Regions from separate parts of the Homo sapiens genome. Here region 2 is linked to region 1. A link means that fine-mapping ties the variant in region 1 to the expression of a gene that starts in the linked region. Tissue or cell type: whole blood. Region 1 holds a variant in brackets; the other region holds the start of a gene. All regions are shown on one strand. Distances are from middle to middle.

Region 1 (5,000 bases):
CTCGCTCTGTCACTCAGGCTGGTGTGCAGTGGCACGATCTCAGCTCACTGCAACATCTGCCTCCCGGGTTCAAGCAATTCTCTGCCTCATCCTCCTGAGTAGCTGGGATTACAGGTGCCCACCACCACACCAAGCTAATTTTTGTATTTTTAGTAGAGATGGGATTTCACCATCTTGGCCAGGCTGGTCTTGAACTCCTGACCTTGTGATCCACCCGCCTCAGCCTCCCAAAGTGCTGGGATTACAGGTGTGAGCCACTGTGCCCTACCCAGAAGTAAAACTTTCTTTGGCACCTGAATTGGAAATGACTTACATTTTTTTAACATGAGATAATCCTATTTATTTTTAAAAACATAAGTATACATAGACAGAAAATTTTGAGTAAATACACCAAATCATTGATTACAACTATTTAGGTAGTAGGATGAGAATGTTAGTGACATATTACTTTCTCAGTGATCTTATGAATTTTCTAAATTTTCTGGAATACATGGTTATTGAATTTTTTTTTTTTTTGTATTTTATATATTCAGGCTAGAGTGCAATGGCATGATCAGAGCTCACTGCAGGCTTGAACTCCTGGGCTCAAGCAATCTTCCTTCTTTAGCTTACCAAATAGCTGGGACTACAAACACATGTCATCATGCCTGGCTAAGTTGATTTTTTTTTTTTTTTTTTTTTTTTTTGTAGATTCTTGCTATGTTGACCAGGTCTTGAACTTCTGGCTTCAAGTGATCCTCCTGCCTCGGCCTCCCAAAGCACTGGGATTACAGATGTGAGCCACTGTGCCTCGCCCGGATGTTGAATATATAATCAGAAAACTACAATGAGTTTTTTCCAGTTTTTAAATTTGTGGTAAATATGCATAACATAAAATTTTACTACCTTAACTGTGTTTAATATATACAGTTTAGTGCCATTAAATATATTCATAGTATTGTGCAACCATCACCACCATCCATGTCCATAATTCTTTTCATTCCGTAAAACTGAAACTATGTACCCATTAAACTAGAACTCCCCATTTCCACCTCCCTCCAGCTGCTGACAACCACCATTCTGCTTTCTGTCTCTGTGATTTCTGGTACCTCTAAGTACCTCATCATGGGTTTTTATATAGGGAGAAATAAGTGATGTCATGTGCATTTTCCAGTTTAAAAAATAGAAATCAGTGGTAACAAAGACATTCCTGAGACTGGGTAATTTATAAAGAAAAAGAGGTTTAATGGACTCACAGTTCCAGGTGGCTGGGAAGGCCTCACAATCATGGCGGAAGGCAGGTCTTACATGGCGGCAGGCAGGGAGAATGAGAGCCAAGTGAAAGCAGAAACCCCTTATAAAACCAACAGATCTCATGAGACTTATTCACTACCACAAGAACTGTATGGGGGTAACCGCCCCCATGATTCAATTATCTCCCACTGATTCCCTCCCACAACACATGGGAATTATGGGAGCCGCAGTGCAAGATCAGATTTGGGTGGGGACACAGCCAAACCCTATCAGTGGTGTTAGTGATCATTTTATAGGAGGAGTAATTTTTTTATTAAGAAAGGGAGACAGGACTGGGCACAGTGGCTCACGCCTGTAATCCCAGCACTTTGGGAGGCCGAGGCGGGTGGATCACGAGGTCAGGAGAGCGAGACCATCCTGACTAACACAGTGAAACCCTGTCTCTACTAAAAATACAAAAAAAATTAGCCAGGCGTGGTGGCGGGCGCTTGTAGTCCCAGCTACTCGGGAGGCTGAGGCAGGAGAATGGGTGAACCCGGGAGGCAGAGCTTGCAGTGAGCCAAGATTGTGCCACTGCACCCCAGCCTGGGTGACAGAGCAAGACTCTGTCTCAAAAAAAAAAAAAAAAAAAAGAAAGGGAGACAAAAAGTGGAAGGACTGGGCTACTTATATATCAGCAACATGTGTTTGAATTTTGGGGTATAAATTAATTAAGCCAATAATCATGAGTTTAAAATC[A/C]ACTCTTCCTCTCAGTAGAACAATGAATAAAAAGAGCTACAATTTACTTAGTCTTTAGGAGGGTGTGTGCCAGGCACTTGACTAAGCATGGACAGAAATGAGTGCAGCCCTCCTCCAGCCCTGAGAGGTAGGGTTCTTCTCCTATTGAGAGATGGGTTTAGCTAGCTCCTGTGCTGTGTTGGAGTTACACAGCTCTTCACACTGGTCCTTCTGACCCCAGATTCCTGGCCCAGTGCACGACGGGACTCTTCCACTCTTGGGACAGCCTGCTAAGTGTGCTGAGGATATCGGTAATGGTGGCAAACCATTGTGTTTCAAACCAAACCAAAAAGGAGGAATCTTGCAGGAGGTTCCATCCCAGGATAAATGCAAAAATATGTCCAGATCAATTTCAGGAGGAGAAACTGATCAGTCCACCAAGATGTAGCAGATTACTACAATGTGGTGGCTTTTTATTCAGAAAAAAAAAAATAAAACCTACTACTGTTAGGGGGCATATATGCCTTACCTTGCTTGCAGGAGGGAGGACAATCTCGCTGATAAGCCCTGGGTAGCCAGGCTGTTCAGCAGGTCCCCCCAGCCCCTGTTTTTTTGTTTTTGGCTTTGTCTACATGGCACCACAACACTGGCCTCACTAGAAGACATAGTGAAAAGTGTTGTTGTTGGGAGAAAATAGCCACAGGGTGCTCTATGTCTCTGTTAACACTTCATTGTAAACATGGGTTGTGGATTTAGAAAGTATTGAATTCAGGTTCTGACGCTTTTCTCAGTAGATTCCTGTGGCAAGCTACTAACCCCCTCTAATAATAATAGTGCTGACAGCATAGGATTATTGTGAGGGTGAAGTGAGATGCTGGTTGTCAGGGGTTTTGCCCCATGTCTGGCACACAGCAAGAGCTTAAAAGGTGAGAGTTATAATTATTCACTAGCTTAGATTACAGGCCATCCCTCAACCAGTCATGCCGGCCAGGCGATGTCATGCTCTGATTGGGCAGCCCTGGGTCACAGTTGCATTCTGAAAAGATGATACTGTTGCATGGACTAGGTATTGCAGGAAGGCAAGGGCGTGGACAGTGACTAGGAGATATTGCAGGCATTCAAACAAGAGATGATGTGGCTTGAAAGAGGGGAGCGACTGTGGTGCCAGAGATGAGGGCCACGCATTGTGCTTCTGGAAAGCTGTAGGGAGTAAGTCGTGAGTTCTCCTTCGGTGCCCCAGTAGCCCTGCTGCTTCTTCTCCATGGGAACAGGGAAGGAGGAAAACACTAAGTATCAAAGGTAGAGGAACACATACCATCAGGCTAGCTTTCCTGTACCAGATCAGGCCACCAACATTGCCCTTCTTGGCATCTTGGATTTCTAAGAAAATGCAACCCCATGGAGGGAGGGCATATTGTTAAGCCAGAAATAGGCTCAAGAGCACACTGCCAGCCATGCGAACCACACGCCACAACCAGCCCTTTATTCATGGGGTGCTGGGAACTATCTTCCTCAAGCCTCTACAACCCATCCTTGATTGCAAGCAAGTCCCTGGGTTTCAAAACAGGAAGTAGGCCAACTTGAGTTGCTCTTCTTCCTGGCAGCTTCCCTTCCTGGCAGCTCCTCCTCCAGACAAAGAAAGAGGCAGATGTTTTGCAAAGAGCAAGACGACACTCTTCATGGAGCTCTGGGGCAGGAGACAAGATGTACAATGGCACAGGACAGGGGACCTGAGTAGAGGACAGCATGGCAAGGCTGAGGCATGGACCAGCACCTCTGTATGAGGCACACCTGGAATTGATAAAGCAAGTATCATACAAGATGGAGAGGGACGTGTCTCTCATTTGACAGGCTTTGAGTTAGAACAGTCAGGATTCACATCTCAGTCTGACTCCAAAGGCCCAGACTTTCTTAGTCAACCACTTGATTGTTTTCACCTGCATAATACCTCATGACTCCAGCTGATATTTTTCCCACTGGGTTGGATGAACCAGTGGGAGAGCAATCAGAGACCATTGGCATCCATTGCCAGGAGAAAAGAATGGCCTTGTAGCTAGCTGTCTATACACTTATATGCATGTACTTTGCATATTGCAGAACATAATGAAAATGTTAGGGCTTATCACTATGAGCAGTTCTACCATTTATCATACTGATTCCTCTCTAAATTAGGACAGTCTAATTTCCCTGAAGTCAGAAAGCACCTCTATCAGTTTCATCCTGTTCATCCAAAGGATGGTACCCCATCAGAATCTCACACATGGCAGTTCATTGTATATTGCTTTAAACAGAAATAAATTGAATTATGCGCTTTATCTGTGCTCCACAGTTCTTCGGAATTTAAATGATTGCCTCATCAACGTTAAAGAGCTTTTCAGAAGCGAACACTTTCTCTAAACTCTGAAGTGATTGGTAAACATTAGTTTCAAGGAGTGTTAAGGCCATGATATTGGGTCTTAATACACAGGGGCACATTTCTCAGAAGGAGACTAAGACATGCGTGACGGTGCTGTGTCCAAGACACCCATTGTGCCTCCCAGTTTGACTTTGACAAGAGTCTGACCAACACCCAAAGCCCTCCTCAGCTTAAACTAAGGCTTGTCTTGCCAGAAACCAAAGTTCCCAGCCATTAATCAATGTCTAGTCCCTACCAGGCTGAGAATAGACTCCTTGCCTGTAAAGACATTCAAGGAAGCTGCCAGTGGCTTCTGGTAATCGCCAGTGTGAGTGGGAAAGACATAAACTATCAGCAGGTTGGGGGGAGAAATGGAACATGAGGGGCTACTGTTTTTGGCTTCATGCAAAGCAGGGTGTAATTTTTCAGAAAAAAATAAAATAGTGAAACACGAAGAACATAAGAAGGTCAGTGTCACTTCCTAGTTCACCCTGAGTTAGACTTCAAACAGTGAGTCCTTGTTTTCCGTCTTTTCTATGGGGCAAGATGTGATTGCAACTGAAGTACATTGATTAACCCAAAATAACTTTCCCTCAATTTGCTGGATGCCTAGGAATACTCCGGAGACCCTGCTTTTGTTTTGAGTTAGCCATTT
Region 2 (5,000 bases), 52 kb before region 1:
CCCTGTTCAAGCTATCTTCCATCCAGGATTTAGGTGCAAAGGCAGAGCTGGGGCGAGCATACTTCTGGAGCTGAATATGATTGCTTGCAAAATTTTTCTTCAAAGGCGAGATGGAGTTCAGGGGCGTTATTCCACCATTCAGCCCTCTGCGGTGATCTCGGCCTTGGGAACCTCCCCAGCCACCATATCCACCACCGCCCGGGCTCCAGGAAGAGGAGGGTGTTGGTGACGGACTCTGGTAGCTGCTCCACGGAGAGGGGGGTTTGTTAAGATTATTCGCCAAATGAGGCAGCTGGTTAAAAGCAGCATTTCTATGTGTGAAGGGTGGGGGATGGGGACTGGCAGGAGACCTCCTTTGCTGCTGATGCTGGCTGTGATGATGCTGGAAATGAGGGTGATGTGGGTGGTGCTGTGAGAGAGGCCCGATCTGAGGAGAGAAGCTGCCTCCAAAGCCAGGGCTGACATGATGGGGGAAATTTTGAAACAACAGAGCACCGTTATTAGCCGAAGCAGCAGGGACCCCTCCCTGGTGAAAGAAACTTGCATCTTCATTGATTATTGTAGAGGAGGAAGGCGCTATCGCTGCTGACCAGTTACTGAAACCAGTAAGAGACGATGCGCTAGATGTCAAGGGTTGGGTTGAAGTACCTAGCCCAGTGGCTTCTTGATAATCAAACCCTGTCAACACTGGAGATTCGATCCTTATTTTCTCCTTCCCATTGCCATTTTCCGAAGAATTGTCCCCTTGATTTTCTTCTGATTTTGCCTTCTCTGTTTCAGGCAGTATTCCAGCTTCCTGACCTGGACTTGGGGAAAGCTGCTGCTTTTCTAAGGGGTCTTGCTGTTCCTGTTGCTGACTTTTTGCTTTTTCTGACCCCAAGATCTCATCCTGAATGTTATGGGTAGCTGGAGCAGGAAAAAGCCAAGCTGACCCAGCACTGCTGCCATTGGCAGCTGTGTTATTATTTATAAAAGCAGCAGGGCTGGGGGTGGCATTTTGGTGATGGTGTGGAGGCTGCAGATGTGGATGGAATCTGACTGGAAAAGCAGATTTATTCCCAGTATTGCTTTGCACTAGCACTCCAAACCCGTAATCCCCCATTTATTATCTTTAGGAGCAGAATCTCACAATAAAAAATGACAACCTGATGTCTCACGCCTTTTTTTTCCTCTACCCCAAATTTAAGTTGTTTGCTTGCTTGCTTGAAATGTCTTATTTATAGCTAGCTCAAAGATCGCAGCTTATCACCTTAAATTGTTCTGATTTGGAATTCTGGTCTCTGAAAGAAAAAACAACTCTTAAAAAAATCTCTTAAAACATTGACTTGGATCCAATTGGGCTTATTTTTAGGAGGGAATAAAAATGAAGAGGGTAAAAATCAAGTCTTTGGTTAGTAAAATAGGCGCTTTCTTTTTCCAAAGGAAAATGTACATGAATGACAAAAACAGAGCTTCTCAAGCATCTATGGATGTAGAAGAATAAGCCTTGCGCGGAGTAAAAATATAGATATATATAATTTAACAATCACATATGGTTTTCCTCAGCAGTTTAGATTCACTCACATAAAAATTAGAATAGGACTAAGAGGGGAATACGTTCTTTTCTTGGCAGCTTGGTTAAAAAAAAATCAGGAATAATTTAAGAACATTATATATTATATATTTATATATATAGATTATATTAGGTTATCTGGGGTGGGAAGTGAATTCCTGGTTTCGGGAGAGGAAATCAGCATTGACTAATGGAAAGATGATTGCAGGGAGGTTTCTGCTGTTCCTGGTCCTGTTTTCTGCTCTTTCGCAGGGTGCAGTTTTGGCCTCTGGGGCTGTTCCTGAGGCTCCGGGTGCAGATCTTGCTGCGGTCGCTGTTCCTGGGCTCCCCGCGGCTTCCTCTCCCCCATGAAAGGGGTTGGAAACACCCGTTTCTCCCTCTTGCGGGGGTCGCGATCAGGAGGGATTAGCGAGACTCGACGAGGGTGAGCGGGCGGCCTGGGGGTGCGGGGACCGAGGGGGCGACCTGGAAGGTCCTGCGGTTTCTGCCTCTTCCCCTCTCTGCGGCTCCGGGGTTTTTTTCCCTCATGGGACCCAGGGGCGGTTTGTTCAGTTCCCTCAGTTCGATTCTCCGCAGAGAGGGAAAAAAGAGGAAAAAAAGGAAAAACCCACTACCGTAGTTATTTTAAAGGAGAAGGGCCTCCCCCCTCGGCTTTCTCTCTCTTTTCCCCCAGAATTTTTTTTTAAACTATAATTTAGAAGGCTTTTGTTTCTCCTCACGGTTGCTGGGCCGTCGCCGCCGTCGCCGCTTTACCCTGGTCCCGCAGTCCCCGCTGTCGTTGTTGAGGACTCCTCCTGGTTCTTCTTTTTCTTTCCTTCTTCCTCCTCTTCCTCCTCTGCTGTCGCCGCTGCTGCCGCCGCCGCCGCCGCCACCGCCTCCCGGTGCCCGGGTCCCGCAGCCGCGGCTGAGTCCTTCTCCTCAGGACCGAGCCGAGTGAAATGACAACCAGCTGGAAAGACCCAGAGACACTTCCGGTTCGAAGAGGGAGGGGTGGGGGTAGCACTCATTCCCCACCTACCTGCCGGAAGACCAATCATCTGTTAGAACTCAGGCGAGGCCACGCCCCCTCGCTTCAGAGCTACTCCCAGGAAGGTCGAAAAGTTACCTCCAGAGACGCCTCTTCCGTCTGCGCCTCGCCTAGTGAGGCCCGGCGCCTGGAACCCGCTTCCCCCACCCAGAGTGAGCGCAGCAGGTCGCCATCTTTTGTGTGGGCAAGGGACTCCTTTGATATTTCTCTTCCCTAACTGGGCTTTGCAGGAGGAGCAATAGGGACGTGTCAAGGAGAACGGATTCCTCGCTCACGAAGGCATACGGTCAAGGTGTTGGAGATCGAAGTGGCGGCCCGTGAAACCGCGGATGAATGAGAAGGGTGCCCACAGTAAAGGTGGTGCTCCAAGCATCACGTGCTCTGGCCCGAGCTCCGCCCCAGAGGGATCTGGAAGGGGAGGCGGGTCTTGCCAGCAGCTGTGCGGTGCCTAGAACTGCGTTTGCCCTTGCCCAGAATGTAGACCTCACGAGGGACTCTCCCTTAACCTTCCATTCGCTCACCCGCACCTCCCACTCTCCCATTCTGCTAGGCTCGCATCTGGTGCAGTCTCCCAGGTGCAGAGATGCAGCTGAGGCGTCTGTGGCTATGCCCCCGTATCATCCCGATCTAGTACACCTTACACGCAATACCAGAGGGAAAATTCCAAAACTAAAATTTTATCTTGACCCTCACATGCTCCGATTTCTTCTATGGTTGCCCATTATTTCGAAGATAAAGGCCAAACTTGTTAGTCTGGTATTCAAGCCTTTCTACCTAATGGGTGGTATATCTTAGTGCCTCTTCCCCCTCCAAACACACTCTCAATGCCTTTTTACATGTCCTTTCCACTCTTCTCCTTTGGTAAATTCCTATTTATTTCTAGGAATCAGTTCAAAAGCCACCAACAGCATCTTCTGAATTCTCTCTTATAAGCGTCCACGGCCCTGTGTACCTCTCGTGCTTGTTTCTCACACTATATTGTGATGGTTTATGTCTTCCAGACCTGTGCTGGACCGTGGGCTCTTTCAGGAGCAGACATTGTAGATAGGAGACATCAGTGAATGAATCCTGAAAACGTGAATGAACAAACCAGCAACAATGAAGTCTTCCCTGAGTGACAGCCCCCCAACCCACTGCCACCCCTTCCACCCGTCACCCACCCCCCACCCCTCACTCCTGTTTCCAAGTCTGAATTAATTATTTCCTTCCTTTTGCCATTTGGTTTGGAGCTCACATATCAGACTTTTCATTATGTTTGGTACTCAAGGGCTTTAATGTCCTGTTTATCTTTGTACATTCCCAACGCTATGACCACCATCAGGGCTTAGGATAATGCTTTGCTCTCAGCACAGCTTTAAATATGTTAAATAAGTGAGTATTTTCCTTTAGCAGGAAGAAAAATGAACAAAGAAATCAGGGTAGAGCCAGAAGTAACTGGCACAACTAGAGGGAAAAAAAAGATACCAAGATTAATGAAAAATAGTATGAACAAAGGTGGCTTCCATTTCATTTCCATAGCCTTCCTCTAATGGTCTCAACTTCTGCCTCAGTCTGTCAATCCTCCATCACTTCCGTGTAGAACACCTGAGGGCCTTCAATCGGTGATTTTATTCTCTTTCATTGTGCCATGAGCATGAGTCTTGTCTCTGTAACTCTACTATGGATTCTTTGAGCATAGAGATTGGGTCTTACCTGCTGTTTATTCCCTACAACTGGACATGCCTGGAAACTTAGCTGGTTCCGTCAGGTGTCTTTTCCGCCAGAATGGTTTCCTTGACTGGCCCTCTCTCTAATGTCTTGTAGATTGCTCTCTTTTAATTACTGCTGGTTGTCAGTGGGTTAGTTTCTTAAGGGCAGAGGTTGTGTCTGATTTATCTTTATGTCCCCAGTGGCCAGAAGAGGGTCTGGCACAGAGCAGACTCAAAACTCAGAACACATTTATTGAATGAACAAATGAATGTTCCATGCCCAGAAGATGGTTTAGGGTCCCTCAGAGCTACTAATTATCAGTGGCTAAAATGGCAGCCATGACTTGGAAAAAAGAGCACCTTTGGAACCAAACAGCCCTGAATTTGAATCCCAGCTCTGCTGCTTCCTAGCTGTGCAAAACTGGGCATCACCTCTATAAGCCCTTGGTTCCTTCTAGATAAAATGTGAATGATATTTCCTCTCTTGCTAAGTTTGTAAATTACATGGGATACATGTGAAGTGCTGGACTCCTAAAAAGTTTTATTAGTCCATTTTCACACTGCTATAAAGAAATGCCCAAGACTGGGTAATTTATAAAGGAAAGAGGTTTAATTGACTCACAGTTCCACGTGACTGGGGAAGCCTCAGGAAACTTACAATCATGCCGGAAGGCGAAGGGGAAGCAAGCACTTTCTTCACAAGGCGGCAGGAGAGACCAGAGTGAAAGAAGAA

What was found. PIP is the estimated chance that this variant, and not a neighbour inherited with it, causes the effect.
Region 2: CPEB4 starts here. The variant in region 1 is fine-mapped to the expression of CPEB4 in whole blood (INTERVAL, PIP above 0.99).

Annotation. Positions count from the first base shown.
Region 1 is chr5:173,833,840-173,838,839 of GRCh38, reverse strand. No RefSeq gene overlaps it. Among named protein-coding and RNA genes, the nearest start is that of LINC01485, 45 kb to the right of the region's middle. RefSeq lists a silencer at 2,840-3,134. The variant A/C (reference allele first, on the strand shown) is at 1,972.
Region 2 is chr5:173,885,836-173,890,835 of GRCh38, reverse strand. It overlaps CPEB4 (cytoplasmic polyadenylation element binding protein 4), which reads right to left and starts at 2,487. Exons shown (of 10, transcript NM_030627.4): 1 at 1-2,487. The coding sequence starts at 1,102. RefSeq lists a silencer at 1-210 and enhancers at 1-214, 215-716, 2,741-2,980.